3 separate regions of the Homo sapiens genome follow, and regions 1 and 3 are each linked to region 2. Evidence: fine-mapped expression QTL. A gene starts in region 2. Each other region holds a variant in brackets. All regions are shown on one strand. Distances are from middle to middle.

Region 1 (10,895 bases), 96 kb before region 2:
AACTCTGCCATGATGGATGACTATTTGTACTTCTAGCCTAATCAATCAAAGATATTTAAAGAATCTACTCAAATACTGGCTAGGTAATACTATCATTACTCCTATATATTTTCAACCATCCCAACTTTCAAATGATTAAAATAAAATTTATACATTTATAATCTTTTAATTCTTAAATAACAAAATTATATGCGTTATCACACAGACACAGCTTTGGGATTTTCTATGTCATCCCACAGCATGTTTTATCTTCAAAAAGACAATCCACTGTATCCCTGTATAATTATGGCCCAGAAAATTAGGGTATGAAGCTTTTTATTCTGTAGCTTAAATCCCTCATGTTTCAGATTAAAAATCCATATAATTAAACATTATAATTAATCTCATTTCCTCAAAGATTGATTTTTAAAAGCCTGTAAAGTTTTAGGGTAAAAATTCATTATATCTTATTAATAAAAGTTATCTAAAAAGCATGTTAGCCATAAGCCAAAATATACTCACTAAACTAGCAAAATATTTACTACTCAAATTAAGTTCCATTAAATCTTAAAAATTCTAAGCCACAAATGCATACTACCTTTGTAAAGATGAAATAATCCAAGTGTCAAAAAGTTTACTTGAGAGAAATGTTTATAACCTCATATATTTTAAAAAAAGAAACTTGGATTCATAAGTAGACTGCAAAGCTTCTATGCTGACCTCTCAGTGCATACAAATTCTTGCTGGCAAAAAAAGCAGTAAAATTTATCCACTTTAAAGAAGTTTGACAATAAAATAAAAACGAAGTCAGTAAGAATACTGATGTTAATTGCCAGAACTGATTCCTTCACAAACCCTGTTTTCACAACAGCAACCCCTTATGATTAGGGGAATTAAAAGTTGCTGAACTCAACAATCCCTTCAGTTAAACAAACAGACCCCTCATAGAGCTGTCCAACGCTGCCCAAACTATCCATCCTTTAGTCGAATCAGTCAGTTTCATGAATTGTAGGATTTATCTTCAAGTCCAGTGCTGACTCAGAGGGTAGCTTGTTCCCTAGAGAAAACAACCAACAAAAATCAGAACAGCTACTGCTCATAAGCTCTTTCAACACCCAAGTGGAAAGGACAAACTTACTGGGTCCAAAAAAATAGTTCAACTTCCTTTCAACTACAGAAGTAGCCAATGAACCAAAGGCATCTATATGTCATGGGCAGTTCTTGATTAAAGCTTTCACTCAGTTACAGTGAGATTGTTAAATAGCTAACAAAGTTTTCAAGAGAAGCTATAGCACAAACCATATGGTTTCTCACTGGGAAAAAATATGAAGGGAACATAAATGGAAAGTATTATAAGGGCCAAAGCTATTTTCATTTTGTTGTATTTTTTCTTTGACAAGTTGGTTACTTTCCGTGTGTGTGTGTGTGTGTGTGCGTGTGTGCATGCGTGTGTGTGTGTGTGTGTGTGTGTGTTGGCGGGGGTGGGGGGTGGGGGGGGTGGGATTAAAAGTCTCCACCAGAAAAGCAGTTTGGATATCTAGAGTAACTCTGCTTAACGCCATACATAATGAACTAGTGAAATGTTACATAATTCCTTAAATTCAAGGTTCTGATTCACTTGTTAAATAAAATATTCTGAATCAAAAGATTGAAAAGAGTAACATGTTCTGTTTCAAGACCTCAAATAGTGGCTTGCCTTCCTTATTATGTCTAAACCCAAAAAAAAATCAACATGCATAGCCTTTGAGCTTCAAGATATGCCATAACAAAACAAGGGAACATTCCCATTTTATGAGTTAGTGGTTTTATCTATAATACACTATTATGAAAAAAAAGGGGAAAAAATAAGAAAAGGAACTAAAGAGCTCAAGCTAATTTCATAACACTGAAACATCATTTTTCCTTTTGTATGAATTAGACTGAAAGTTTTTTTGTTTACAAACGTTACTCAAGCCTGCATCCAGACAGAATCATGAAGGTGGCCAATACAACTTTTCATTAAAAAAAGTATCAATGCTATTAATTAATCAAATGAAAATCTATCCTAATTAAAATATATCTTTCTCATTTCCAAGTTTTAACATGAACAAATCTTGATTCTCAGCCATAAACTCAGTGCCTAAGAGCTCAGACTTGTGAAATACAATATAGTAGTGACCATGCATTGTCTTGAAAATTGTACTCATTTGAATATAGGCATCTGACATTTTGGTTAAGTGTCTTTTTTGTTTGGTTCCTTGGTTTTTAATGCCTTATTGATTCCTCACTTTCCCAACCTTTCAAAAGGGGTTTCAGGGGGATTAAGCACCAATGAGCTAAACACCCATTGTATAATGCCACCTGATAGACATTACCCTTTGCAGAATGACAAAATAATCGCTTATATCACTTTTCTGTACTCTTTGGTTCAAATGAGGAATCTCAGCTAAGAAAAGTGCTGCAGCCTTCCAGCCTCCTTAACCTATGTACTGGTAAATTCCCTCCTACTGAGAAACAGGCCACCTATGGCAGTGGTTTTAAAACAGTTTTAACTACACCTTAGGCTTCCAGCAGTGCCTCGGGGTTTTGTAAATGCCTGATTTGAATTTCTTTTTATCTGTTTTTCCACTGTTTATTAAATAAATAAAAACACACAAATGCAGGTCAAATTAACATGCATTCATGTTTTAACATACCAACACCAATATACTTAATTTTGTGTTGGGTTAGGATATTTTCATGCAGACCTCAAGGTAAAGCCTCTCTCTTGTCACCATTGTGCATACATACAGATGTTTTTTATTAGGAAGGTAGTGACTCTGCAATAATCTTTGTTTAAATGCACATGTACTCAGAGAAACTTGAACACATGAGTACACAACTTACCCATGGAATTCATGATTTTCATGTTACTATATGATTAAAAATATAAAAAAGGAGACTTGAGGGATACAAAGTTAATTATTATTCTTCACCCACCAATTTCAAGCTATTATATTCAATAAAATACTACATAGCCTTGTTATTCTCACTGAATAACTTTATGAGTTAATGTAATAAACCCGAACCGGTAAATTCCAGCTTTATCTGCTTTATGTAACTTTAGGTTTGGGGGTTCACACAGGACTTCACAAGAGTACTGCTGCTATTTTTTAAAAATGTATGAAAACTAATGTTCTAAGCTCTAATTAAGTTTTGGTGCTTCTGGTTCACAGGTTCTCTAGGGGCAGAAATGATAATTAAGTCTTAAGGTTTGGTTGCCTGTTCATTTCTGAGTTCCAGTGATATAGTTAGGTTCCAACCCATCTTTTCCAGTCTTATTACCTACTAGTCTCTTCTCCCCACATTCTGACAACCCTCAAGAAACAATGTGCCAAACTCTGTGAAGCTGATGGCAAATAAAACTGTTAAAAAGATTTTAAAAGAGGAGCATCAGGTACTTAACATGTAAAAAAAAAAAATCTGTCTACCTCTAGGCCATTTTCCATTAATTTTTCCATGTTCCAGCCCAATCTAATGTTTTCACTGGCCTAACAATGCTAATTTTAAAACAAAATTCTACTCTTTGGATATAAATATTTGAAAAGATAAAAAGAAACTCCACATAACAAAAGCAGGGACTAAGAGCCTAAGACAGAGCTCTGTAAAACAAAAGAATCCATATGATTTCAATATTCTAAATAGTCATGCAAAATCATCACTTTTAGAGAGCTGATATTTAACCAATATGCACTGATACCAAGGTACTGTTTGCTTTTAAGAAAAACAAACAAAACAAAACAAAACGCTTTGGGAAGCCAAGGCAGGAGGATCGCTTGAGTCCAGGAGTTCAAGACCAGGCTGGGCAACAAAGGGAGACCCCATCTCTACAAAAATAAAAAGAACCCTGCTCTAAGCCTATGGCTTGGAACCATGCCTGAGATTTTCTTCACAGATGTTCATTCAGTCTTCACCTAATTCAGACTGAATTAATTTTTAAACATTCACTGAGAACATTGTCTTTATGCTAAACTGGTTAAAACAAATAGAAAAAATAACAAACTTCACTGACTCTCAACTGCCCATTTTTAAAACAGATAAAAAAATCTTATCCTTCCTTTAAAAACCATCTCAGTTCTTCTTCCATGAAAGTTTTTTCCTTTACATCCTCATTCAAATCAGATAAAATTTACCTTCCTTCAAATTTTCTGGCATTTTGAACATTTTTTACTCTAGATGTAAAGGGGTATATGTTAGAATCTCCTGTGAATTTTTTAAAAATATAGATAAAGGCTGATGCTCCAAATCTGTGTTTTTGATTTAATAGGTCCTAGATGGGGACTAGAGAATTTATATTTTCAAAGCACCGTATGTGATTCTGATCTGTACCTATATATGAAAGCTCACTGGAACCAGCATGAGATCAAACGCTGAGCAAGATTCTAAAAATTGAAGATATCGAGAAATAAAACCTAGGTCTAAACTCACACAGTTCACATTCTACCATAAAGCTCATTAAAATGCTTAAAAATGTTCAATCTTAATACTTAACTGTAGCTCTTCATATGTGAGCACAATAAAGGATAAAATACCACAGGAGCATTTAACTTTAGTGGAGGAAATAAATACGTATAAAACTAACATGAAGGCCATGCACGGGGTTCACGTATGTAATCCCAATACTCTGGGAGGTGGAAGCAGGAGGATCATTTGAGGCCAGAAGTTTGACCAGCCTGGAGCAACTTTCACCAGCCTGTAGCAACCACAACTCCATAAAAAAAAAAAAAAAAATTTAAAAATCAGCTGGGCATGGTGGTGAGTGCCTCTAGTCCTAGCTACTCCACAGGGTGAGACAGGAGCCCAGGAGTTTGAGGGTGCAGTGAGCTACAATCGAGCCACTGCTCTCCAGCCTGGGCTACAGCCTATCTCTAAAATAAATACATATATATATATATGTGTGTGTGTGTGTGTGTGTGTGTGT[A/GTA]TGTGTGTGTGTGTATATTAGAGAAAGACAAAAATACTAAAAAATTATGAGATACTCAACACACTATAAAAGCAAAGAAATGGGAGATACTATAATGACCAGAGAAGTAGCTATGACTTCCAAGAAAATGACATTTGACCTAATCAATAAAAAGCAGGCAAAGATCTCAATAAATAGGAGAGCCTTCCAGGCAACATAAGGCCCAAGCAAAGGCACAGAGATGATGGGGAAAAGGCTGACCATGTTCAAATACATATTCTTAAAGAACAGGAGATGTACTTCATAAAAGAGTGAGGTCCTATATGAAGTAGAGTCAAAGGGACTAGGTCCATTTAATCAGAAAAGAAAGATGGCAGTATTTTAATAGAACCTTCAATTATTTAAAGGAAGTAAACAGGGGAAGAGGATGGAAAATAATGGTGGGAAACTTCCTTTACATTGTCAAAGGCCTTTTTTTATAAGTGACACTTTAGCAGGGACCTAAGAAGAAGAGAAGGAACCAGCCATGGAAGGAATGGGAGGAATGACACATGCAGAGAACATGAATCAAAAGGAGCTTTACATTATTTGGGGAATGTCAGTAAAAGGCCAGAACGGAGTACACAAGGGAAAGAATGACAGGTGAGATTATAGGTATATAAAACAGATTATGCAGGCCATGGTAAGGGGCTTGGAAATTATTCTAATGACAATTTAGTCATGATTTGGTCTATATTTAAGATTACTTTTGTTATTATACAAAAAAGAAATGCAAGGGTAGACCAATTAGCCTAAATAGTGCATGGAAGCGGCTATGATGGCAAGAGTAAAAAAAGGAAAATAGAAGACAGTTCATAGATATAATATGAAAGCCAAGTAGATATGGAAAATGAAGATCACAAAAATAAACCTTAGGTTTCCTGTTCAAGAATCTTTCTTAAAATGAAGGTTTTGAAATTAAAAACAAAAAAGAAAGAAAAATAAAGAATACTCAAGAGGAAGATGATCAGTTTACTCAACTTCATAAAAGCCTAGAGAAGAAAAAGCCTTAACTCAGCAAACAGAATGTAGGATAAGAGTTAATAAATTCTAAAATGAATTGAGGTATGAAGACAAGTTAGGACATACTTTCCTAAGGCAATTAAGAGATTTTCACATAGCTTAGGTAGTAGCTACAGAGAAAACTGAAGATGGGAAAATGAATTAATCAGTTTAAAACCCTTGTTACCTATAATTTTTACAGCATATAGAAATTATACATTCACATGCACACCAATAGTATCTTCATAATCATACAAAACTCCAAAACATGAAAAATTTTAATTTTTCATAATAAACAATATATTAAAGTTTTCTTCTAATTATTAACATATGGAGGCCAGTAATCTCAGCACTTTGGGGGCCAAGGTGGGAGGACTGCCTGATCCCAGGAATTCAAGGCCGCAATGAATTATGATCACTCCACTGCATTCCAACCTGGAAAAGAGAGCAAGACCCTGCCTCTTAAAATAACAACAACAAAACCCACATGGAACTGAAAGTAAGAGGAAGGGGGAAGCCTGTTCTCCCTGACTGTACCAGACCACACTAGTGCTTCTTAACTGCCTCAACTCTCTTAAGGCACTGGTTCTTAAATAGGATTGACATCACAATACCTGAAAGGCTTTCTAAAAAAAGACATTTATAGAACTGAAAGAAAAGAAAAATGGAGGTCTGGATGAGAAACTGGATTGGTAGGTTTAGGGGTCCTGGCCAGCAATGTATATTTTAAAAGCACCTTGGGAAATGCTGATACACATCTTTGGTTAATTTTTAAAAGATTAACATGAAATCAATGTTAATGCAATAAAACAGAATTTCTGATGAAATAAATGGAACTATATTCTTTTTACAGAAATACAAAGGGAAAACATCAGGGAGATTAGATTTTAGAAAGACTATAAACCTGATATTTGCCAGTGAAATTATAAAAGCCTTTTTAATTTCTACACTGATTTTATGACATCCTGAGGTACCTCTAAAGCTTCCTCAAGGAATAAATGTTCAAACACAAAATTAATTTGCAACATAAAAAAATGCACACAGCTACACAATATACTTTTCCTCCAAACAAAATAAGCCACAATTCTAATAAGAATGTCTTAATTTCCAGGCCGGTCATGGTGGCTCATGCCTGTAATCCCAACACTTTGGGAGGCCGAGGTGGGCAGATCACTTGGGGTCAGGAGTCTGAGACCAGCCTGGCCAACATGGTGAAACCCCATCTCTACTAAAAATACAAAAGTTAGCCGGGTGTGGTGGTACACGCCTGTAATCCCGGCTACTCAGGAGGCTGAGGCAGGAGAATCGCTTGAGCCCAGGAGGCCAAGGTTGCAGTGAGCCGAGATCATGCCACTGCACTCCAGCCTGGGCAATAGAGTGAGACTCCGCCTGAAAAAAAAAAAAAAAAGTGTCATAATTTCCAAATATTAGGAAAAAATGCACCTAAGCAAATCACAAAAATCCCTTCTCCTCTATATGAGGTTTTTAACATAATTTTTTTCCACTTTTTAAAGAATTACTAAAAGCAACCATCTGAAGTTACTACCCATGATTTTCCTAACTATACCAATACATTTGCCTTTCAGAATTACTGATTTAAAATTTTCGTATTCTAGTTTAACAATCTGCATGCTGGATATCTATTAAGCTACTCAAGAAAAAAAAAGATAATAGTATTCTAATCTGTAAATTCAGATGTTTTATAATGAATCTAACCTAAAAACTTGTTCTGTAAAATTGATGAGGAATATGTACACTCACAAATCATTATTTTCATAGAGGCCTGATTTCCCCATAGATCACAGTTATGTTATTTTCTGTCAACAGGTTACAATTTTAGCCTAACATAATAAAAGGGAGTCTTTAAAAAAAAGTTTTTGGATAAGGGTTGCTCACCCTCGAACTCAAATTAACAGATCCCTTATCTAAACACTTAATGTGATTCCTAATACATGTATATGTAATTCTGTGCATATCATTTGTGTTTATGCCAATGGAAATTAAATTCTCAATACAGTATTTTATAAATTTTTTATTTTTTAATCTTTATAAATTTTTTAAAAATATATTATAATGCAGAACACTTCATGAATTTGGATGTCATCTTTGCACAGGGACCATGCTAGTTTTCTCTGTACTGTTCTAATTTTAGCGTATGTGCTGCCAAAGTGAGCATACATTTCAAAGATTTTTTTTTTTTACGTTGAAGCTACTAGAGCTTCATCTTCTATATGCAAATATAATATATCCCATTTAAAGTGGGTCAAATCAATAGTTACCATTAAAACAACAGTTTTTTAGGATGTGATAGAACAATTTTCTACTCTTGAAGTATCCAACATCTAGATTCGGGGTAAACTGAACCTTGGATTCAAAGACTATGCTCTTTATGATACCTAATTCTACTCTTATTTTGCTGTCCTTCAATGTCTATCTTAACAACAGTCACTTCTTGGAAATTTCTAACCCCTTATCCTCATTTTTACAGCCTCCGGGTTGCGGGGGATTAGGAATTCTGTGAATGAGACTACAAAGATATTACAAATAAAGTATTCTTTTTCATTTTTTTGAGAAGTAAACAAGAACTGGTTTTCACTTTTGGGTAAATATAAAGGAAAAGTGCTAAATGTTTACCTTATGACTGCGTAACAGTGACATTTCAATTATAACACCATGAACTGATTAAAAGTACAAAATCTCTTTATATTATGCAATAAAACGACAAATTTCAAAGTACTCTAAAAAGATTTATTTATTTATTTATTTTCATTTTCAGAGACAGGGTCTCACTGTGCTGCCCAGGCTGGAGATCAATTGTGTGATCATAGCTCACTCCAGCCTTGAACTCCTGAGCTCAATCAATCCTCCCGCCTCAAGCTCCCAAGTAGCTGGGACTACAGGTGTGTGCCACCATACCTGCCTATGGTTGTTGTTTATTTGTTTTGAGACCAGGTCATGCTGTGTTGCCTAGACTTATTTTTACATGTAAATCACCTTTAATAGAGGCCATGTGGATCTAACCCAAATAATTGCAACTTAATTTCCATCTCTGATTTTCCCCTTAATAACTACAGAATTTCATCAACTAATTTATATAATCCTACTTCATTTTGGCTGAATATCTATCTATGATAGATACTTAAGACTATCTGGTATTAGAAATACTGTAAGCATTAACAAAATAATTAAGTACCTTAAAGCTTTCTCATAAAATGTATTTAATCTTATTGACCAAACTCAGGCACATAATGTCAATTTATATGATGAATTTAACCTGAGCTTTATCAAACACACAGTCCTCAATATTTGATAGAGATCACAGCCTGCACAACTACTTTGTTTTCCTGGTCTACACATAGTAATCTTCCCTTTGACATAACTTCAGTCTTGCCTGTATTAATGGTGTCATTTCTAGATGAACTGTCATTAATTAATTTAACAAATATCATTAGACTATTGATTGTATAAAGTGCAGTGCCTAAATCCCAAAAACATGAATAATTCAACATATTTTAAAAAACCAGCATCAGGGTTTTAACTATACTAGTAGGAATCTTACCCACTGGCCTATAATAGTAGGTTACTTACTTCGGTCTCTATGTTTGAAGAAACAAAACAGTAACCTACCTGCTTGTCCCCAAACTTGGCCAAATGATCTAAAATGATGGGATCTCCCTAGACTCTACAATGGTGGCAATCTTTTAAATAATAACACTTACTTAAACGAAGCATCAAAACAGAGGGAAGAAAGGTGTTAGCTACTAAATATAACTGTTTTGGTTGAAAAGAACCATTTTTTTCTTCTTGAGTGGTAGTGACTGTTTGAGTAAATGGTGTCCTTCATTCATAGTGATAAATTGTGTTGTGTTGTTTACAAACAAGAAACTTAAAGACAAGAGTGTCTTATGAAAATTAATTACAAAAATTCACACAAAAAAGTAAGATTTAGTTAACAATGTAATTTTAATTTTGGATTTCTTTCCAATGAAAAAAGCTACCACCAAAGTACAAACAAAAATTAAAGTTGATCTCCAGAAAACTGTGGTTGAATCAATAAGTGCCTCTTATTTATCTAACATTAACAACAATTTAGTTGTTTTCTCTTATTTTCTCTTTCTTTTTTTGCCAGGACATGTTCTCATGTGAACAATTTAGTTGATTTTTTTGTAACAATTTAAAAACATACATATTAAAGTGTAACATGTAAATAAAAGATATCTGATTACTAGTTCCAGAACCATAGGGTTGTTTTTTTTTTCCATCCATGGAACTCTGCTTGAGGGTTTTATATTTTAAACAGCCACAGTACTTATGCTACTCATTTCCTAAGTATTTTGAAAAACTAAAAGTTATAGTAACTAATTTATATTTTGTCTCACTAACATTACCAAGGTGGAAGGAATCCGTTTCCCAGATTTATTCATGACTAAGCATCGGCAACTCCTATATTCATGAATTCAACAATAACTCTAGTTATTCAGAACACAGACATTAACCAGAAATGAAGTGATACTAGCCTCAGCCAAAGGATAATATAAAGCTCATGTACCTTATTCACAGGAAACAATTCAAGTCCTTGACTCAAAGCCTTTTTCTCATTTAAAAAAAAAGAAAAAAAAAAAGAGGTACTAAAAGATATCTTTGTGTTCTTAGCTCTCAGCAGATTAGGAGGAGGATGAGAAAGGGAGATTAAGAGGAAAGAGGAGATAAGAATGACAAAAGTTCTAAATCGAGCAGTCATTCTCAAAATGAAGTCCCAGGACAAGCAGCAGCATCAGCAACACCTGGGAACACATCAGAAAAGCAAATCTTCCCTGGTTCACCCAGAGCTACTAAATCAGAAACTCTGGGGATGGAACCACGCAAATGCTGGAGTTTAACAAGCCTCTAGGTGATTCTGGTAGACTGAAATTTGAGAATCACTGTCACAAACAGCACAACAGAATTACCAATAAAA
Region 2 (10,895 bases):
AAAAAAAAGATGATGTTTTGGTTTGCTTTTGATAATCATTTATCTTCTTAAAGGGTCATTTCAAATGCACTTTCAGTCTATGATCATACCACTCTGAACACGCCCGATCTCATCAAATGCACTTTTACAGGAAAAAGTGCTTTATTTGTTAACTCAATCTCACCTGGAGTTACGTTATCCCTCGAGTTTTCCTCATAAAACTTATCGAAACCGGCCGGGCCCAGTGGCTCACGCCTGTAATCCCAGCACTTTGGGAGGCCGAGGCAGGTGGATCATGAGGTCAGGAGATTGAGACCATCCTGGCTAACACGGTGAAACCCCGTCTCTACTAAAAATACAAAAAAATTATCTGGGCGTGGTGGCGGGCGCCTGTAGTCCCAGCTACTCAGGAGGCTGAGGCAGGAATGGCGTGAACCCAGGAGGCGGAGCTCGCAGTGAGCCGAGACTGCGCCACTGCACTCCAGCCTGGGAGACAGAGCGAGACTCCATATCAAAAAAAAAAAAAAAAAAAAAAACAAAAAAACTTATCGAAACCAAGTATTACCTTATAGATATTTATAGCCCCACTAGAATGTAAACTCCATTAGGGCTGAATTATGTTTTTTTGTTGCTGTTGTTGTTCCTATCACCTTAATCAGAGCTTACCACCTTGGAAGCAGGATATTAAATGAGTGAAATGAACAGTATTATAAAGCCTTCATGATATACTAAGTATATTATTCCAATAAAAATGTTTAAACTTATGCCAGCTATCCTAACAGCAAATCGCCAGTACTCACTTCTCTGTCACTTAGTATAGGTTTGTGGGATGAAAAGGCTAGTCTTGGCTTAAACAAAAACAGCTTTGCCACACGCTACACATTACATATTCCAAAGCTAACATTTGAACTTCAAGTTATCCATGGCACTGCTCTCCTCCATTTGGACAATCACAATTCAATAATCTGTAGCTATTTTACTAGTCTTCAATGTATGCCCTCAAAAATTTGAAGAAGGAAATACAGAGGTTAACTATAGATTATTAATATTTAATAATAGCAATAACTAAGACTGAAACCTCAATATGTGCAGGCAATGCCATGCAATTTTCATAACATCTCCATTTTCCAGATGAGAAAAACTGAGGCTTAAAGGTTAAAAATTCGTTCAGTCACAAAGCTAGTCAAAGAGCCAGGATTCTATCTGAAACATGTCTTATTCACTAGTAACTACATTAGGAGAATTGAAAAGTGTATTTTGGTAAATTAAAACTACTGGGTTTCAAATAATGTACATAAAATACAAATATTGGCATATTTTACCTGTTAAAAATTGTACACTTTGAAGATTAAAGCCATTTTGAAAATCTAGCCAGTTGAAAATATTAGAATTACATCATTAAATGTCAAGAATCGATAATGCAGTTGAATACAAATCAAATCACTCTTAAGCCTTAGAAAAATCCCAAGACTAACAGAAATACGAAATGTTACGTAAGCTACATGGTACGGCATACCTGTAGTCCCAGCTACTCAGGAGGCTGAGGTGCTAGGATCACTTGAGCCCAGGAGTTGGAGTCCAACCTAGACAACACAGCAAGAACTCCCAACCCCCTCCTCAAAAAAAACAAAAACAAAAACAAAAACAAAAAATCAAATTGCAGTTTCCTTATAAGGTTGAAACATCATTGCAACTAAGTGTATTAAGAAAAAGCCTTTGTGCTTCAGTTTTCCAATGGCTGCAAAATAAAGATAAAGTTTTCTCATGCACCCACCTCCAAGGTTTTAACACTATCTGAAACACCAACAAAACAAAAACAATTCTGCAAATGTGAAGTGCTAAAGTTAGAGTCAAAACCTCAAATGCCTAGATATAAAAGTCATCCAGTTAGGGAATGAGTCAAAATGGAGAGAATTATGCTCTATCAACAGCTCTAATTCCAACACAGGTAAGAGACATCCTTAAAGGGAAACCAGAAATTTGTACTTCTATATTAAATCTTTTGTTTCTTTTGTTGTCAAATGATTCAATCAAAACCCACAAACATAGAAATTAAAAACACTAAATTATGGTATATATGGTGGCTCACAGGGTAGGCAGATCGCTTTGAGCCCAGAAGTTTGAGACCGGCCTGGGCAACATGGGGAAACCTCATCTCTACCAAAAATACAAAATAATTAGAGGTGCTTGGTAGCCAGTGCCTGTGGTCCCTGTCTCAAAAAAAAAAAAAAAAAAATTGCCATCTATTTTAACTGCCTCACACACATAATTAACCAATGAAGGCCAGATGTGGTAGCTCACACCTATAATCCCAGTACTTTGAGAAGTCAAGGCAGGAGATTGCTAGAGCCCAGGAGTTCGAAACCAGCCTGGACAACACAGCAAGACATCATCTCTTCAAAATAAAATAAACGGATCAATACTGTCTCAAAACACACTGAATGAGAATACAGTAAAAGGTAGAAAGCAGTCTAAAAAATGAACAATAAGTGTAAAAACTCAAAAAAGCCATACAATTACCAACACAACCTTTTTTCCTGATTCCTGAGCAACATTATTTCCCACTCCTTGGTATCTCTCAGTAATACCTAGGTTGTGATTCCTTATGAAGAAATCTCCATCCATAAGGAATTACTGAGAGATACCAAGAAGCCTATCACAGAAAAGAGGAGCCTTAGGCTTCAGCCAGACAAGCTAAAGCAAACACCACAGAATCTAAATACATAAATCAACTATTTAATCAGACAACTTTTACTAACAAGTGACAAAGTATTAATTTTAAAATACCTTTTCAGCATTAACTGCCTGTCCTCTCGAGTCCCTATATCTCAGTTATTTTCCTAAGATGTCCCACCTTTGAGCCACTGCTAATATTTTTTCCTCCACCTTAAGGGTACTTACCTTCCCCTCCCATCTTCATCTGCTTACATCCTGTCCTCTTTCAAGTCTCAGCCCTTCTACCTATTGTGTGTTAATTAGAAAATCCTCGGCCAGGTGCGGTGGCTCCCGCCAGTAATCCCTAGGAGGCCGAGGCAGGCGGATCACCTGAGATCAGGAGTTTGAGACCAGCCTGACCAACATGGAGAAACCCCGTGTCTACTAAAACTACAATATTAGCTGAGCGTGGTGGTGCCTGCCTGTAATCCCAGCTACTAGGGAGTCTGAGGCAGGAGAATCTCTTGAACCCGGGAGGCAGAGGTTGCGGTGAGCCGAGATCACTAGATTGCACTCCAGCCTCGTAAACAAGAGTGAAACTCCGTCTCAAAAAAAAAAAAAAAAAAAAAAGAAAAAAAGAAAAAGAAAATCCTAGAATGATCGTCAGAGCTGTCTGTCAGGAATAAGATTAATAGATAAATAAAACTTTAAAAGTTTTTTTTAAAAAGAGAATCCTAGAAAGATCACCTATGAAGTCTAACACCAGCATTTTAAAAAGTGCCTCTTTCTGGCCAGCACAGTGGCTCACACCTGTAATCCCAGCACTTTGGGAGGCCGAGGCGGGACGATCACCTGAGGTCAGGAGTTCGAGACCCACCTGGCCAACATGGCGAAACCCCGTCTCTACTAAAAATACAAAAATAAGCCGGTCGTGGTGGCGCATGCCTGTAAAACCCAGCTACTTGGGAGGCTGAGGCAGGAGAATTGCTTGAACCTGGGAGGTGGAGGTTGCTGTGAGCCGAGATCGCACCACTGCACTTCAGCCTGGACGACAAGCAAGCCTCCGTCTCAAAAAAAAAAAAAAAAAAAGTGTCTCTTTCTGTCAGTAAGAAAACTATTGTTCAGTGTCATTGGTTACTAATCAAACATTACTACTGAGTCACGACTCACACATCCAGCAAAACTTTAACCTGAAAATGCAAAGTTGATGCTCGAAAGTGATAAAATTCCACCCATAAGTAACCATTTGTTTTACAAAACATCTGAATTTACAAAATTAATTTTCTTAGCATTATCAGCCTTAGCAAATATATCTTCATTAAAGTCAAGCCCATCACAACAAATGAAACACTTCTATAAAAGAAAAAGAAAGAAGAGAGAAAGGAGAAAAGAACAGAACAGAACAACACTTGGCCCAGCATGGTGCCTCACTCCTGTAATCCCAGCACTTTGGGAGGCCCAGGCAGGAAGATCGCTTGAGCCCAGGAGTTCCAGGCCAGCTTGGGCAACATAGGAAGATCCCGTCTCGAAAGAAAAAGCAAGAAAGCAAAACCCCGGGGAAGATATTAAATAATCCTCATAGACCAATTAAATGCTAAAACTTCCTATCAGGTTCATTAACAGTGTTTAAGAAAAAGACAAAATGTTCTCATGTACAAATTGAACTGCCTATCAGATTATTTTAAGATCTAGTTCTCCAGAATTCCCAAGAAAGTAGGACTCCTATTTGGTTTAGAAACGCTCAATATACTAAGAAACAAAACAGGGACATCTGGCACCGGCTCTATTCGTAAAGGCAACATTCTCTAACAGATTACGCTCACATTCAATTGTAAACTCCACTAACAACTAACAAGCTTCAGGTCAATAGATAACAACACACTGAGAGGCTGAGGAGGACAGATCACTTGAGGCCAGCAGTTTGAGACCAGCCTGGCCAACACAACGAGACTACTATCTCAACTAAAACTACAAAAAATTATCTGGCCGTGGTGGCGCGCGCCTGTAGTCCCAGCTACTCCGTAGGCAGAGGCAACAGAATCGCTTGAACTCGGGAGGCGGAGGTTGCAGTGAGCTGAGATCGCGCAACTGCACTCCAGCCTGAGCGACAGGGCGAGACTCTCTCCAAAACAACAACAACAACAACAACAACAACACATGAAAAAGAAATATAAACAGCCTTAAGATGTCCCCACCCAAGTGCTCAGTCGCACATAAACGCAGGCTGCACATGACATGCATTCAAGACACAATGCTGAGTTTGCTTGATACAAAGCTATAGAAGACAGGATCCCAGCTGACACCAGCAAACTTATTCTAGCTTTCAGGGAAACTCAGATGAAATGCGTCTTTGTGAAATCCCTACTCTAAACTCTCGATTAAACCTGAGCACACTTTGAACGCGACAGTCCGCTCCCTCCTAATCCTTAGAAAGCATTTCCTGCCTGCAAAACCTTTCTCCCGCAAGCCTTCTACAAACTTTTTCCGTTCTTTCAACCTACTCCACGAAGCCTTAAGCCCGCCCCTCACCTCCCGCCCCCTACACACACACACACACACACACACACACACACACACAAACACACCCCTCCCCACTAGGGAACCTCAACACTCTGCAGACGCCACTCCACAAGGACACGCAAAACACATGTGCCTGCAAACCCAGCCCCTTTCCACACCCCCCGGAAACGACACCCCCTTTCTCACACTCCGCACGCCACAGCCCATCCCCCTTCCTCCCCGCCCCCCCTTCACATCACCCCAGTCCTCCCACCCACGTTCCCGGGAACCCAACCTCCCCGCGCTCTCCGACTTGCCGAAGGCAGTGGGGAGGGGAAGCAGGAAGAAGGAAGGAGGGCTCAGGCCCGGCCTAGGCCTCTCAGACCGCCTTGGGAGGTGAGGGGGGGAGCCCGCGGGCCGTGCTCAGCTCCCGTCGGCAGCAGGGCCTCATCCGGCCCAGGCCTGCCCTCCGCCGCCGCGGCCCGCCCCGCCCGAAAAACACTCACTTGCCAGCCGCGGTCCATCGAGTCCCCCGCTACTGCCTCCTCCGCCGGCTGCGGCTCCGGTCCCCGGGTCCCCCAGGTCCGGCTTCTTGGGCCCGGGGGGCGGCCCAGCTCCCCCGCCCGCGACGGCTCCCGGCGGAAAGCCGGCCACGGGTGCACCAGCCAGAGCCAGGGGGACGCTGTTGCTATGGAGGCCGAGGCCCGGGGCAGCCCCGGCGGCAGGGTCCTCATGCAGGAACTGACACTCCTCCCCGTAGAAGCAAGTCTTATCCTTAGCGTAGTAGCGGCAGTACTTCAGCTTCACTCCTACCGCCGCCCCGCCGGGGACACCCCCGACCCCCGGCGGGGCCACCACCGCCACCGCCGCCGCCAGCGAGGAGGAGGAAGGGGAGGCGGCGGCCGAGGGGGGCGGGAGGCCGCCGCCACTGTTCATGGCAACGCCGCAGCCTCGTCTTCCGCCGCCGCCCGAGGAGCCGCCGCCGCCACCACCATAGACGGGGGAGGAAAGGAAGACGCTGCCGGTGCCGGATAAAAGCCTGGGCGGGTGGGTCTGTCCCGCTGCGGGAGCCGGAGCCGCCCGGGGAGAAGGGGGAGGGGAGAGGGGAGGGAGGAGGGGGTAGAAGGAGGGAGGGTAGGGGGAGAGTTGGGATTCTCTCACTCACTCTCTCGTTCTCTTTTCTTAAAGGGGCCGCGCGGGACGACGGGGTGAGCGCGCGGGCCCAGACGGGGACTTCGAGGGCGCGGGCAGGGGAAGAGGGAGCGGCAGCGGCAAGCGGGTGGGGAAGGCGGAGGGGCCGGTTTATTTTTAAATTCTGCCTCCACTCGCTCTCTCGCGCTCTGGTTCCTCCGAGTTGTTTATTCCATTTTCCTCTTCCTGAGACGGCCGTCGCCGCTGCGCGTGCGCGCTGAGACGCGAGGGCTTATGGGTAGCGGGAGCGCTAGGGGAAGCCTGGCCGGCGTCGGGCCCCCGGGGGCATCCGCGAGCTATCGGCGGTTGGACCGGCGGCTCTCGGTGGGGTTCCGGACGCGGATCTGGCGCCGAATTCTCACGAGACCTGATACCTTCCTTATTTGTATATTCTCTTACTTAAAAAGCCAGATGTCTTTTTTTTTTTTTTCATTGAAAAGAGAAAATTGACAAGGTAAACGGTCGTTTGGAGGGGCCACCTGGGGACGCGGCCCGAGCCCTGGCTCTACCTGAAGAATATCTTCTATTTGCCACACTTCCTCTCCCCGTTTCCTTTCTTCGCCCCTCTCCTCTTTCCCCTTCCCCTCGAAGGTAATGAGAACTACTGGACCGATTACGCTAACCTCTTGGCCCTTTGTCAAAAAATGGAGCCAAAAAGGTTGATTTAGACAGACCCCCTGCTCAGTGCAGCACCTGTTATTCTCTGTATTTATATTACCAAGGGCCTTCGGTAAATTATGAAAAATAGGATGCCACCTGGGACAACACTGCTTAGACAGCACTGGAAGACCTTTATAAATATACTAGGTTGCTTTTCTCCAATCAGCCTAGCCTTGATTTGAAATTCATTTTTATTTTTTTTGAGACGGTGAAATTCATTTTTAAAAGATAGTTTTAACCTCAGCGATCTCTGATGTTTGCGCTAATACCCTTTTAAAGGCTTTCAGAAATTTTAAAGAATTGCTATGAAAGGAAAAGTAACATTCTAGTTTTTCTCTGTAAAAGAGGTTCACAAACGGCAGATCGCTGTTATGAAAAGGAGGGGTGGAAGTATTTAAGGAATTGTGGCAAACAAAGTCACAGAAGAATGGATATAAGCAAAAGTAGCACACTGAAAAAAATGGGGAAAAGTGGAGTCTAGATCACAAACTGGTAAGCTTGGTGATGTTCTCTAGCCAAATTCGAAGGTAATAACATTGTATTATGGCTTTCTGTTTAAAAGCAGTTTCGCTTATTTGATTATTCAACAAATCTTTATTAACACGCATTACGTGTACCAGAAACTGTGGTACACTTAACTGTGGAGCTGGGGAAGCAAAAGTGAACATGCCGCCTTAAGTGAGTTCAGATGGCTTATCTTCCGGTTGGGGAGGCATCAAGTACACAGGTCCGTTGTAAACCAGTGTCTTAAGTGCTAACCTTATCACATTTGCTATTAGAGGATATTAAACATGTCAGACTTCTTGGAGAAAGTTGATATTTTCATGTTCCAAGTTTGGGAACATCATTGAATTCAGACAGATCTGGATTGAAACAGATTAAAGTGCCTACACTTTAATAGCTGTGTTCCTCTCAGTTAATTGCTTCATTTCTCTGTGCCTTGTCTGTACACCTGGATTAAGAATAGTACCTACTTCATAAAGTATAACTAATAATGTATATAAACTGTCCCATGCCTAATAAGAATTCGGTAGGTTGTAACTATTATTAATAGTATTGGCCAGGCGCAGTGGCTCACGCCTGTAATCCCAGCACTTTGGGAGGCCAAGGCGGGTGGATCACCTGAGATCAGGAGTTCGAGACCAGTCTGGCCAACCTGGTAAAACACCGTCTCTACAAAAATACAAAAAAATTACTGGGCGTGGTGGCGAGCGCCTGTGATCCCAGCTACTGGGGAGGCTGAGACATAAGAATCACTTGAACCTGGGAAGCAGAGGTTGCAGTGAGCCGAGATCTCGTCATTGCACGCCAGCCTGGGCGACAGAGCGAGACTCCATCTCGAAAAAAAAGTAGTATTGCTGCTAGTGGTAGTCAGTGTATAGTCAAAGAGCATTCTAGGCAAACAGCTTTTATTGTTAGAATACAGTGATAGTGGAAAATGGAGCAGAGTCCACAAAAGTCCTTGTAGGGCCATGTTAAAGAATTGAACTTTTGGCCAGGCGCAGTGGCTCACGCCTGTAATCCCAGCACTTTGGGAGGCTGAGGCGAGCAGATCACGAGGTCAGGAGTTCAAGACCAGCCTGGCCAACATGGTGAAACCCCCGTCTCTGCTAAAAATACAAAAATTAGCTGGGTGTGGTAGCAGGCACCTGTAATCTCACCTACTCGGGAGGCTGAGACAGAAGAATTGCTTGAACCCGGGAGGCAGAGGTTGCAGTGAGATCGCACCACTGCACTCTAGCCTGGGCGACAGAGCAAGGCTCCATCTCAAAAAAAAAAAAAAGAATTGAACTTTTTCTTGAGGACAATTGGAAGTTATTACAGGGTTTTTAAAAGTCAACATGGCAGGGCACAGTGGCTCACACCTCTAACCTCACTGCTTTGGAAGGAAGCCAAGGCAAGAGGATCACTTGAGGCCGGGAGTTCAAGACCCTCTTGGGAAAACTAGCAAGACCCTGTCTATACAAAACAATTTAAAAATTAGCCAGGTGTAGAGGCACTTGCCTATAGTCCTAGCTACTGGGGAGGCTGAGGCAGAGGATCATTTGGGCTCAGGAGTTCCAGGATGCAGTGAGCTTTGAAGGCGCCATTTTATGCCAACCTGCACAGCAGTGAGACCCTCTCGGTCAATAAATAAAAAATAAACTTATTTGCCACACATTTCATATCTCCACACTTTTTTAGGAGACAACTACTTATTCCTATAGTAGGGTTGTCTTTTTAAGCAGGGTTCATTGTTGAGTATTCCTTTACTAAAAATAAATATGTAGTCAACTCTAAGTTATTTTCATGTTAATGAAGATTACATCCAAAACTGCAAATAATCCATAAATTATTCATAAAATGTATACTTGACCTCCAACAGCATTTCCCCAGCAACAGAGACTACATTGCTAAAGGGTAATGTTAATTTCTATTAAATGCTAATAATTGAGGCCAAGCGCATTGGCTCACACCTGTAATCCTAGCACTTTGGGAGGCGGAAGTGGGTGGATCACTTGAGGTAAGGAGTTTGAGACCAGCCTGACCAACGTGGTGAAACCCCGTCTCTACCAAAAATACAGAAAATTAGCTAGGCATGGTGGCAGGCACCTGTAATCCCAGCTTCTCGGGAGGCTGAGGCAGGAGAATTGCTTGAACCTGGGAGGCGGAGGTTACAGTGAGCCGAGATTGCGCCATTGCATTCCAGCCTGGGCAACAGAGCGAGACTTCATCTCAAAATTAATAATAATAAAGATTGAGAGGAAAACGTCACATTTTCTGAATGGTTAATTATTATATTAGTGATAGCAGCCTGAGTCTTAAAAATTCTCCCTTAAGGACAAGCATGTGGCTCACACTTATAATCCTAACACTTTAGGAGGTCAAGGCAGGAGAATCACTTGGCTCAGAAGTTCTGAGACCAGCCTAGGCAACATAGGGAAACACTGTCTCTACAAAAAAATTTAGCTGGGCATGGTGGCATTCTGTGGTCACAGCTACTTGGGAGGCTTAGGTGGGAGGATTGCTTGGGCCAGGAGGTCGAGGCTGCAGTGACAGCCTAGGTGACAGCAACCCTGGTGTCACCTGGTGAAAAAAAGGTGACCCTGTCTCAAAAAAAAATAAAAATTATCCCTTAAGATAGAGTGGAAACTGCATGTGGATAAATGAGAGTTGACTGTTTTTGAGTCCTAGAAATGAAATTTGCTGCATATGTATAAATACATTTCTTACATATTTGTAAAGTATGTTCCTTATGCACTAAGCTCTATAATTTTATACAAAGTTACTAGCAACTGCTTAATTTAATCTTGTTGACAAATTTTGGGTGCACTAGAAGCAAAAACCTTCCTATTTGTGGCAGTGATAAATAACTGATACATGACAGATTTTTTGGCCAGGCGCAGTGACCCACGCCTGTAATCCCAGCATTTTGGGAGTCCAAGGTAGGCGAATCACTTGAGGCCAGGGTTCCAGAACAGCCAGGCCAACATGGTGAAACCCCATCTCTACTAAAAATACAAAAGTTAGCCAGACGTGGTGGTGCAAGTGCCTGGTGCAAGTGCCTATAATCCCAGCTACTCGGGAGGCTGAGGCACGAGAATCACTTGAACCTGGGAGGCAGAGGTTGCAGTGAGCCAAGATCGTGCTACTGCACTCCAGCCTGGGTGACAGAGCAAGACTACGTCTCAAAAAAAAGATTTTTTAATGTATCTATGACCCTTTATAGAAGACATAGTCTTTCATCATTATCATCATACTTATGTACTGATATATACTACATAGGTTTTTTTAGTGTTTATGGCAGTAAAAGCAATTTGTTACCTTTCTATACAAGTTTTCAAAGGATTTCAAGATGCTCATATTTATTATATTCTTGTGAAATACATTAAAGGCAAATATGATTTTGAAATTAATTATATCTTGGAAAT
Region 3 (10,895 bases), 140 kb before region 2:
GATTGTGCCACTGCACTCCAGCCTGGCGACAGAGGGAGACTCCGTCTCAAGAAAAAAAAAAAAAAAAAAAAGTGTGCTTTAATAGAAGGTAAGAGGCATGCAAAAATTAGAGATTTCTCAAGTCTCTAAACTGACCAGGGTAAACTTACATGAAACTTCTTCCTCAAAAAGAAGATAGGGTAGAGGTAGTATTAGTCATAAAATGTGCCCTCATGTGCAAACCACAAGAGATTTCTAACACACCATATTTTCTGTGTGTATACATGTGTGTAAAATTCGTAAGGACAGCCACACCTAGGCTGTTGTTAAAAATAGCACCTTAACAGCTAACACAATCTTAAGGTCACTTCACATGAGAATTTTTCTCTTTTTCCAAATAAAGCCAGGCATACTTATTCTTATTATGCAAAATAGTGCTCTCGATTAAAAATATATTGTAAAATACTGTAAATCCTTACTCCGGCCTCTCATTGATTGTTCCCAATTTTGCTAGGAGCCTAAACAGTCTTCCATTTTGAACCTCCTATAAAACATTTTAAAAAGAGAAAAATGTTAATGTTCCAGATAACTGAACATAAAAGCCAAAATTTACAAAAACTGGTAACCTGTACCAATATTACCTTTAAACAATAAATCCTAACATCCCCACCTTTTGGTTATACTTTTAAACAAACACAATATGTCCATTTCATTTCATAATGGTACTCAAGAAGATTATGGAGCTGTCCATAGGAATTGGAAAAGTAACTCACATGAAAAACCAAGATTTTTGTCACATGACTGTAGCAAAGCCATGAATGAAAAGAACAGTGTTGTCCAGAGGACATAAGAAATTAAAATACCAAACATTCAGTGCCGACAAAAATATCTGAAATCTTAGCAAATAAGGCATTATATTTAGTACAATGATTATTTTGTGTCTATTTATATACACAGATGCAAGTTGTGTGTACATTCTTTTAATTACACTCTTTACTGGCCAGGTGCAATGGCTCACGCCTGTAATCCCAGCACTTTGGGAGGCTGAGGCGGGCGGATCACTTGAGCTCAGGAGCTCAAGACCAGCCTGGCCAACATGGTGAAACCCCGTCTCTACTAACAATACAAAAATAGCGGGGTGTGGTGGCGTACACCTGTAATCCCAGCTACTTGGGAGGCTGAGGCAGGAGACTCGCTTGAACCCAGGAGGCAGAGGTTACAGTAAGCCGAGATAGCACCACTGCACTCCAGCCTGGGTGACAAAGCAAGACTCTGTCTCAAAAAAAAAAAAAAAAAAAAAAAATTTACACTCTTTACCTTTGCAAGGTCTTCCTCTATGACATCATTTCTCATTTGAGCAGCATCCAATTGAGTATAAAATCGAGCACCAATCATGGGCATGATGTCATTTACACTTCGCATCCTGTTTTGGTCAGTCAACAAATACCTACCCAAGATAAAAGAGGAATTACTTGGATGTCCAACATGCAATTTAAAAAACAAGATAACCCAAACATAGCTGTTTTGGCTGCCGTCATCTTAGCACACAAAATTTTGAAAACATTTTAATTCATGCAAGTCAAGTTCATTCTTAAATATTACATTTCATTCCTCTGGAAAACTGTAACAGCCAATGGAGAAACAGTAAACATGTCTCTTCTCTACATTTTCACTACTATGGAAATGAGAAAGAAAAGTGAAGTAGGACTGCACTTACCCATTTCCATTCTCAAACCCTTCTTTACAATAGTGCTAGATGAAAAGATTGTTACAGGCCAGGTGCAGTGGTTCACACTTGTAATCCCAGCACTTTGGGAGGCCGAGGCAGGTGGATCACTTTAAGACCAGCCTGGCCAACACGGTGAAACCCCGTCTCTACTAAAAATACAAAATTAGCTGGGCATGGTGGCGGGCACCTGTAGTCCCAGCTACTCAGGAGGCTGAGGCAGGAGAATAGCTTGAACCCAGGAGACAGAGGCTGCAGTGAGCTGAGATGGCACCACTGCACTCCAGCCTGGGCAACAAAGTGAAACTCCATCTCAAAAAAAAGGAAACAAACAAAAAACAAAAATAAATTAATAGAAAGAATTTTTTTTTTTGGTGACAGAGTCTCGTTCTATTGCCAGGCTGGAGTGCAGTGGCGTGATCTCGGCTCACTGCAACCTCTGCCTCCTGGGTTCAAGCAATTCTCCTGCCTTAGCCTCGTGAATAACTGGGACTACAGGCGTGCGCCACCAAGCCCAGATAATTTTTTTCTATTTTTAATAGAGACAGGGTTTCACCATGTTGGCCAGGATGGTCTCAATCTCTTGACCTTGTGATCCACCTGCCTTGGCCTCCCAAAGCACTGGGATTACAGGTGTGAGCCACTGCACCCGGCCAAAAAAGAAAAGGTTTTTAGAAACTTTTTTGAGAGGACTAAAAGGGGGTAGGTGTGGGGTGGGGAGCTTTTCCTGTTGTTTTGCAAAGATTAATTTTCAGAACTAAAACTGGGTTTTCAATTTTGCTAAACTGAATGAGCCTTTTTAAGAAGCTGTCCTCTGCTCTAAAACTTAATTTACAAGGTATCATGACATATTCATTTCTGAGAAATGCAGTAACACGCAGCAGAAGGAACCAGTTAAATTTCTTCTATCATTAGAACAGTGGCAGAAAATACTACACATTTCAAGGGCTACCTGTTAGAACACAAAGATTCTCAATCATCTACTGCCGCTTATTCTATACGTAAAGCCATTCTCTGCCCTTTCTCATGAAAGCAGCCTCCTACTCACTCCTTCACTCTTCTGCTTGTAATTCTCTTATTTTCTTCATAGGTCTTATCACTACCTGAAAATATCTCACTGGTTTTTATGTTTATTTACTCTTTCTTCCCATTAGGGTGTAAGCTCCAGAAGATGGGAATTTTGTTCACCTCATTCAAAGTATCCTGCATTTGGCATATAGTAGTCATCATTTTTGTGGATAAATGAATAGCTATACCCATGTGAATAAACTATATCTTAGCAATTCATCCGTAAGTATGGACATATGTGTACCCTGCTAATCATATTTAATGTTATTACAGGCTATGTGACTTTGGCAAGTTATTTTATCTCTGTGGCTCAGTTTTGTAACTCTAAAATGGGACTAATAATGGTATCTAATTTATAGAGTTATTGGGAGAATTAAAAAAATTAATTCACATCAAGCAGTTTGAAAGGGCCCGATACATGGTTTAATTACTCCATAAACTTTAGTTTGTGTTTATTATTAAAGTATGGCTTTTTTGTTTATTCATTTTTTTAATAAAGAAAATTTCAAACATTTATAATAGAATAGTAATATAATGAATCCCCATGTATCATCACCCAGTTTCAATAATTATTAACATATGGCTGATTATTTTTGTCCTCTATCCCCACTTTTTTAAAAAGGAAAATTTAGAGATTATAACCTGAAATTATTTGAGGCATCCTAGGTATTTGCAAACTAAGGCTAGGAATCACTGTTGTGATCATATATAAAACAAGTATTTTTATTCAGAAGATAAATCATCTTATTTGAATTTGATTATGAATAGGATCCAGACAACCACTGGCTTCTAGTGCTGTCACAAGTAGGACATTTATGCCAGTGTAACAAAGAACAGGTGGGCAATCCCACCCTCCATCCCCCAATTCATACCCCAGGGCTGGTCCAAAAAGAAACTGGATCATCCAGGGCTACACAGAAAGATCAGAATGGGCAGCTGTAAGCTAAAAGAGACTGTTGATTAGCACCTCTTCTCTAATATAGCTCATAACTGTAATAAAGGTCGTGGTTGCCCACCCTCTGGGATCTCCCAATAGTAGCTATATCTTACGGAGAAGTCCTTCTGTTGTGACAGTAGTCCACACAATGGGTTTCTCTTAAGCCAAATTCATCTCAAATCGATACTCAAGGATTCTCTGGAGCGTTAAGATACTGGAGTGTAAGCATGGGGGTCTCCACACAAATGCTTTCCAGAATGGGTATTTTGGCCAGAGTACATGACTGGATTGCACCTGAGGCTTACTCATGATGGCTTTCACACTCTCTAGAGCAGCACTATCCAACAGAACTCCAAGATGAGGGAAATATTCTATGTCTGTGCTGTCCAATTATATTAGCCAGTAATTACATGTGGCTGCTGAGCTCTTGAAATGTGACTAGTGTAATTGAAGAAGTAAGCTTTAAATTTCAATTAATATCAATGTAAAAGGTCACATGTAGCTAGTGGATACCAACAAACTTCTACTGGGTGCCCTTTAACCAAATGTTTAAAACATCAATAACTAATTTAAACACACTGGTTTATCAATTTATCTAAGAAATATTTACTTTGCAATAAAAATAAAGACATAAAGTTTCTGTTTTGCTTGATTTTAAATAGTGGGAACCAAAACAATCACTTAAAACAAAAAAAGCTCTGTCTTATCGCAAATAATCATTCTGTACAATTTATCATATATTAAAACTTACAAAATCAGATTCTTCAGGTCAGAGGAATAGTTGATTGTCACCAGTTCCATGGCTTTCTGTAAATTCTCTCGCTGAATTCCTGCCAAAGAGTTGCAAGCCAAAGCCAACACAACTTTTCCTAATGATATCAGATCTGCTTGCTGACATGAAAGAATAAATATAACTTTTAATTTTCATTTCACAGGTACTCATTTAATACACTGACACTACTGCCTAAATGGAAAAAGCATCATTATAAATAAGCTGCAGGCAGGGTCCTCAAATACTGGTGATTCTCAGAATAACCTGGAGCTTATTAAAAAGACGACTTCGAGCCTCTCTACCAGAGATTCTCATTGGGTGGGTCCAGAAAATGGCTCAACATTTTTAAAGCACCCAGGTAATTCTGATGAAGGTAGTTCTAGGTCCACGCCTTAAGAGACTTTAAGCAATTCCCATGCCAACTACAAATTGCCACTTTTAAAAAGTTTTTCTAATTTTTTCTTATTTAAATAGAGGTAATATTCTTCTCTATTACAACAAATTTAAGGTTACTATACATTTGCTTTGCTATGACCACTATAACTTAACATACATACTTTGCTCATTTTCTGTAACTCCCAGAATATAGTGGGAATGTGAAGGATTATCTGAAGAAAAGTTATCCTATTACAAACATTAGCATTAACCAGATTTTAGAGCAAATTCTCTAGAACATCAAAAATGCTGCAAACCTCAATGAATGACATCCCATCTATCTTTGTTTCCAAATAGACTATTTTTCCTCACACTCTAACAGATCTTTGAGCTCTGGAACCACCACCTGCTTTCCTAAAACCTCTCCCACTCAAGATTTACCATTCTGAGGCTTTCCTTCTAAAAGGATTTTCAAAAGACAGCTGGCTGAATTAAGTCCTTTATCACCTATTATAACTCCAGGAAACAGTATGGTCATCCCAAGTGGCCCTGATTGGTAGGAAGCTATTAACAACCACATGCCTTCAAGAATGGAGTACTTCAGAGTTAACATGAAACCACCTGAAGCAATTTCTACAACAGACATTTGCAGATCTTTAAAATCTGAGAACTCATCTAAATTATTAGACACACGTTCATTTACTGAACATTCGTTTATTATAAGGAATTTTCAAGCATAGCTGTATATTACCATCACTTGAGAAGCTTAAAAACAAAACCAAAATCAGCAGTAGCCATCCCCTCGTCCCAATTTTGGTATAATTAGTCTGGGATAAAAATCTAGGTATTGGTATTTTTCTAAGCTTCCACAAATGATGGTAATATGCAGCCAGGATTGAGAACCACTGGTTTGTTGGAATATTTGTAACTTTAAGGCAATCATTAGTGAAATTCTAGCATTATATGGTTATACTTAACAACAGCCTACCCAAATAATGAGTAAAAAGACGTTAAACTCCATTACTAAAATAACATTTAAAAGTTCATACTAAAAAATTTATCCAAAACTAGCATTTGTGAATCTGACACTGAACATGAGATAAGGAGACAGACTGATTAGGTAGACAAACTACTTTGAATCTATTAGAAAAGATTCAAAGATTCATCCCAGAAAACTTTTAAAACTTCACTGGTGATAGAGTCAGGAGCCCAGAATGGCAGGAGGGAAGCTGGCATGGGAAGGAGAACTATTACTGTTGCCATCATTTCTGTTTGCTGGAGGACACTGTGATGAACTCCAAAAAGAATTCCTCTCAATCACACTTTAGATCAAGTAAAACATTCCAAGTTATATT[C/T]ATGAAATTACAGAAATCTCAGCCAAAAGAAATCAGTGCATATAAATGCCAACTATAAATTTCTATGGGCGATTCAATCCAAAGTATCCAGCAAAGCATACCAAAGATTGTTGTTATTTATCACGTGTTTGAGCAGCAGGTACCAACACACAGTCTTCCAACTCTTCAAGCAGCAGAATTTTCAGTTTGGTTCCACCCTGAACTGATGCTGTATTAAGCCTCCCTCCCAGAATATTCCATTATTCTCTATTATGAGACAGAAAACCAAAATGGTCCAAGAGAGCTGAAGAACCAGATGGGTTTAAAAAATAACATCTGATTTTTAGTACATCCCATCACCTCTCTAAAGCGGACTCAAGGTAAGAACATCCACTTTTTGAAATAAAGTACATGTATGACACAGTCCAGATTAAATTAGAGTTGTTTTTTTAAACAAAAGAAGTTAATAAAATCTTAAGAGAGTTTCACACCGTAAAACCCAGTAACTCTCCTTTCCTTATTTCTCAGCTAAATAATTTTCCATTTGTTATTTTGCTTCTTACCTCCATCTGGTTTCCCCCCATTTGTTGAATTCAGGAGATTTGCCCCCCAACTGATTTTCAGTTTCTTCCTGATTCTTGACTTCTTGATTTCTTTTTCTGATTCTATCTATGGCTCTACTTATGTCCATTTTACTCAAAGTCAGTCTCTATTCACGTGTCTGAAACAAACTATGAAAAATAGACTACAAGAAACAATGCACTCCTCATGTATCCTCTTCTCTGTAAAATCACACTCCCCCTTTGGGACTATCTTTAATTCTTTCCTATACCTTACTATAATAAGCAATATAAAAAATCAGCTACACATATATACCCAAAAAAAGAAAGCCTGATATATATCCTTTAATGCTGAAAAAAATAAACAGGTGATAATTAATTGAAGGTTGCCTGATTTTATGAATGAAGGCATATCCTGACTTACAAATATTAATAAGGTGCCCTAAATGCTTAAAGTTGGTTGTCTGAACTCAGGGATTTTTTTCTTATGAAAAGTTTTGTTTTTCAAGGTAACTACACGACTCATAACATACTTGAAAAGGAACCCTACTGAGAAAAGAATGAGGAGCGTGTGCAGTTTTTTTTTTTTTTAATGCAGACACGGGTTTCTAGATACTTACATTAGAAGATGATGGTACTGGCTCTAAAAATGTGTAATTTTCCTTCAAAAATTTAATATTATCTGCTTGGATGTATATCCAAGTGTATATATTCACTAATATTTTAACAGTCAATAATCTGTCACTTTTGGAAGCATAAAGGTCATAAAGAAAAATTAATCGGAGCCAACTACCTAGGCACTAAGTATAAGAGAGAAGATAAGAATGAAAGTAGCTAAGAAACAATGTCTCCAGATAAGAAAGAGGGGGCAAATGCCCTCAGGCAGAAGAACAGAATGATGCTGCTGGGGGAAAAACAGAACTAATCATATTCCTCCCTGTGTTGCCCACTAGATGTTGCTATCAACCAGAACAGCTTGGCTGCTGCTGAGGTTAGGTGGGCACAAGCAGAGGGAAAGAAGGGTGTGAAACGTCTGCAAACAACTGAATGCAATGAGTGCCTGCAAGTCTTTGGGACTGTATTCTCTGTGGTTTACGAGCAAAACAGATTTATGCATGAACTGAAATACTAAACACTGATTAGACTCTACTTCTCATTTTATCCTTTTTGTTCTCTTTTTGTTCTGAAATTCTATCAGTGAACTAAAATCTTCTTCCAAAACTTTAAACAAAATAAGTTGAAAAGAGAAGAATAAGGTGTTTCTCCATGTAATTAAGAAATTCTGCCTTAGAGCAAACCTTTGTAAGTTAATAAATGTTCAAAAAACCCAAAAACTTCTTATACACAAAGAACTAAAATTGTCTTAAAATCATAGCTGCCTATCCTAATGTGAAGCATTCCAATACAAACTGAATGACCTATTTACTTTAGTTTTGTTACTTGCAGAGTAATCAAGGCAAAAACAACTATTCTCTTTTTTTTTTTTGAGATGGAGTCTAGCTCTGTTACCCAGGCAGGAGTGCAGTGGTGCGATCTCAGCTCACTGCAACCTCCGCCTCCCAGGTTCAAGCGATTCTCCTGCCTTAGCCTCCTGAGTAGCTGGACTACAGGTGTGTGCCACCACACCTGGCTAATCTTTGTATTTTTAGGAGAGGTGGGGTTTCACCATGTTGGCCAGGCTGGTCTCCAGCTCCTGAGCTCAAGTGATCTGCCCACCTCAGCCTCTCAAAGTGCTGGGATTACAGGTGTGAGCCACCACACCTGGCCTAAAGCAACTGTTCTTAATGCTTGAAGATACGTTCTTATTCTTCGATACTTTATCATTTAAATCAGGAAATAAGAAACAGCAAAATAGCTAAGAAGCATCACGAGGCCTAAATCAACACTAATAAAATGAAGTCAGACAATAATCAAATACTAATAAAGTATAAGAAGTGAGTGGTATGTTCTGACTAAATAAAAAAATTACTTAGAAAATGGCAATCCAATAACAAACCTATGAAAACATTTCTAAAATTTCATGACTGGTAGTCAGACAAGTGTTCTAAAAGTAAAAATAATAGGTGTAATTAAAGGAGTGAAAAAGAAGGGTGTCATTTAATATAATCCATTCATCTGATTAGTCTTGTTTTAATCTATCTATGCTTAGGACACGTTTCCTAAATCACATAAATACATTTTCATTTTGAACAGTTAAGAGTCTCTGACGTTATCAGGAGGCCGGGCACAGTGGCTCATGCCTGTAATCCCAGCACTTTGGGAGGCCGAGGCAGGCGGATCACCTGAGGTCAGGAGTTCAAGACCAGCCTGACCAACATGGAGAAACCCTGTCTTTACTAAAAATACAAAATCAGCCAGGCATGGTGGTGCATGCCTGTAATCCCAGCTACTCGGGAGGCTGAGGCAGGAGAATCGCTTGAACCTGGGAGGCAGAGGTTGTGGTGAGTTGAGATCGCGCCATTGCACTCCAGTCTGGGCAACAAGAGTGAAACTCTGCCTCAAAAAAAAAAAAAAGAGTCTCTGACATTGTCATGAATTCTCTTTATTCCAACCCACAAGGGCTCTACACTAAGTACATCATAATGGTTAAGAAATACAGCCTGGGCAACATCGTGAGCCTCTATCTCTACAAAAAATAAAAATAAAAAAAATTTTAGCCAGACACAGTAGTGCACATCTGTAGTCCCAGCTACATGGGAGGCTGAGGCGAGACGATTGCTTGGGCCCAGTTCAAAAGCTGCAGTGAGCTGACAGCACCACTGCACTCTAGCCCAGGTGACAGAGCAAGACAGAAGCAAAAGAATAGAAAGGAAAAGAGAGAGAAAGAAATAGAGAGGGGAAAGGAAAGGAAGAAAAGAGAGGGAGGGGAGGGGGAGATACATGTTCAAAGTCTGCATAGACACCACCCCAAAATAAATTAAAATCTAGGCTTAAAACACTGAAATACTTTAAAATGAACAAAATTTGTCTTTAATAAAGGAAAACAAGTAAATATCCATGTTAATTCTTACTCACCTGGTACTGGGCCATTAATGCCAATGGATTATTATTTTGACTGTTATCAAATGTTAAAACATCAAAAACTCCAACACAATTTACTCGCAACCTTTAAGGACCAGATAATTTAAAGAAAATAATTAAAATAAGTTTTTAAAAAATTGCATACTCATGGAAAAGTAACATTTCCCAAAATATTAGGAAGGATCTCAGAATTGAGTTTAACTTCCATCCTACCCCACACCACCTCCACCAACCACCATTTTAGAAATGGTAAAATTAAGGCTCAGAGATATCAAGTGATATACCTACAGCTGTAAAAGTCAGAAACTGAGAAAGCCAGAACTATAACTCACATCTCTTGACTAACAGGTCAGTGTCCTTTTCACCATTCCAAGCTGTTTATTAGTCATTCATAAAAGAGAACTAGTTAGCTTTCTAACACTTGCAAAAGATGTACCAGACACTGTTCTAAGCATTTTACATGACTCATTCAAATCCCTCAATAACTTTATGAGGGGTACCTCATAAATAAGCAGAATGGAGTTAGTAGTACACTTGTCTAATAAGGTTGTCAAAACACAATTTGAAGAAGTAACTTGTTCAACGGCATATCGACAGTAAACTATCAAAGCCAGGATATGAACTTAAATAACTTGGTACCAGATCTTCAGCTCTTTATGTTATGCAGCCCAAGACAATCACAAAATTACAGCAACTCAAAACTCAGGTGAAGACAAGACTGATAACTGTACCAGTTGTTCTCAAAGCATGTGACTCAACAGCAGCAATGGCAACACCTAGAAACTTGTTAAATATGCAAATACTTAGGCCCCAATGCAGACTTATGAATGAAAATCTCTGGGGGTAGGGCCCAGCAAGCTGTGTTTTGTAAGTCCTCCAGGTGATTCTGATTCATGCTAGAATTTGTGAACCATGGTGCTACATAGAAAAGTTGTATTGATATTATTTTTATATTCCCCTAACCCTAACCACATATACTTCCCTAACCTTTCCCAAGATTTTTGGTTAATAACCAGGCATTTTATTCAGAGTTCAACTTTTTTTTTTTCTTTAAAAAGCTTACAAATGAATTCAAAGTTACAGAAGTTCTTCTGGATGGAATATATGAAAAGGCAGAATTAAA

Alleles and levels. Positions count from the first base shown, and alleles are read on the strand shown. Sizes are in standard deviations (SD) of each study's normalised expression. Not every link is listed here.
With allele GTA in place of A in region 1, the expression in monocytes of the gene that starts at base 5,553 in region 2 is lower (moderate effect, 0.63 SD a copy in Quach 2016).

Evidence for each region.
Region 1: its variant is fine-mapped to the expression of PAN3-AS1 in monocytes (Quach 2016, PIP 0.95).
Region 3: its variant is fine-mapped to the expression of PAN3-AS1 in whole blood (INTERVAL, PIP 0.99).

Annotation. Positions count from the first base shown.
Region 1 is chr13:28,229,720-28,240,614 of GRCh38, reverse strand. All of the region lies in intron 6 of PAN3 (poly(A) specific ribonuclease subunit PAN3), which reads right to left. It also overlaps the pseudogene RNU6-82P. Among named protein-coding and RNA genes, the nearest start is that of PAN3-AS1, 96 kb to the right of the region's middle. RefSeq lists an enhancer at 2,041-2,696. The variant A/GTA (reference allele first, on the strand shown) is at 4,919.
Region 2 is chr13:28,133,832-28,144,726 of GRCh38, reverse strand. PAN3-AS1 (PAN3 antisense RNA 1) reads left to right here and starts at 5,553. Exons shown (of 2, transcript NR_029383.1): 1 at 5,553-6,180; 2 at 6,322-7,884. PAN3 (poly(A) specific ribonuclease subunit PAN3) reads right to left here and starts at 6,182. Exons shown (of 19, transcript NM_175854.8): 1 at 5,640-6,182. The coding sequence starts at 6,069. RefSeq lists enhancers at 1-75, 5,141-5,435 and silencers at 5,518-5,917, 5,958-6,037, 6,228-6,337.
Region 3 is chr13:28,270,943-28,281,837 of GRCh38, reverse strand. It overlaps PAN3 (poly(A) specific ribonuclease subunit PAN3), which reads right to left. Exons shown (of 19, transcript NM_175854.8): 14 at 9,767-9,857; 15 at 4,462-4,601; 16 at 1,297-1,426; 17 at 459-523. LOC124903140 (a long non-coding RNA gene) reads left to right here. Exons shown (of 2, transcript XR_007063735.1): 2 at 2,860-2,992. Among named protein-coding and RNA genes, the nearest start is that of PAN3-AS1, 140 kb to the right of the region's middle. The variant C/T (reference allele first, on the strand shown) is at 6,213.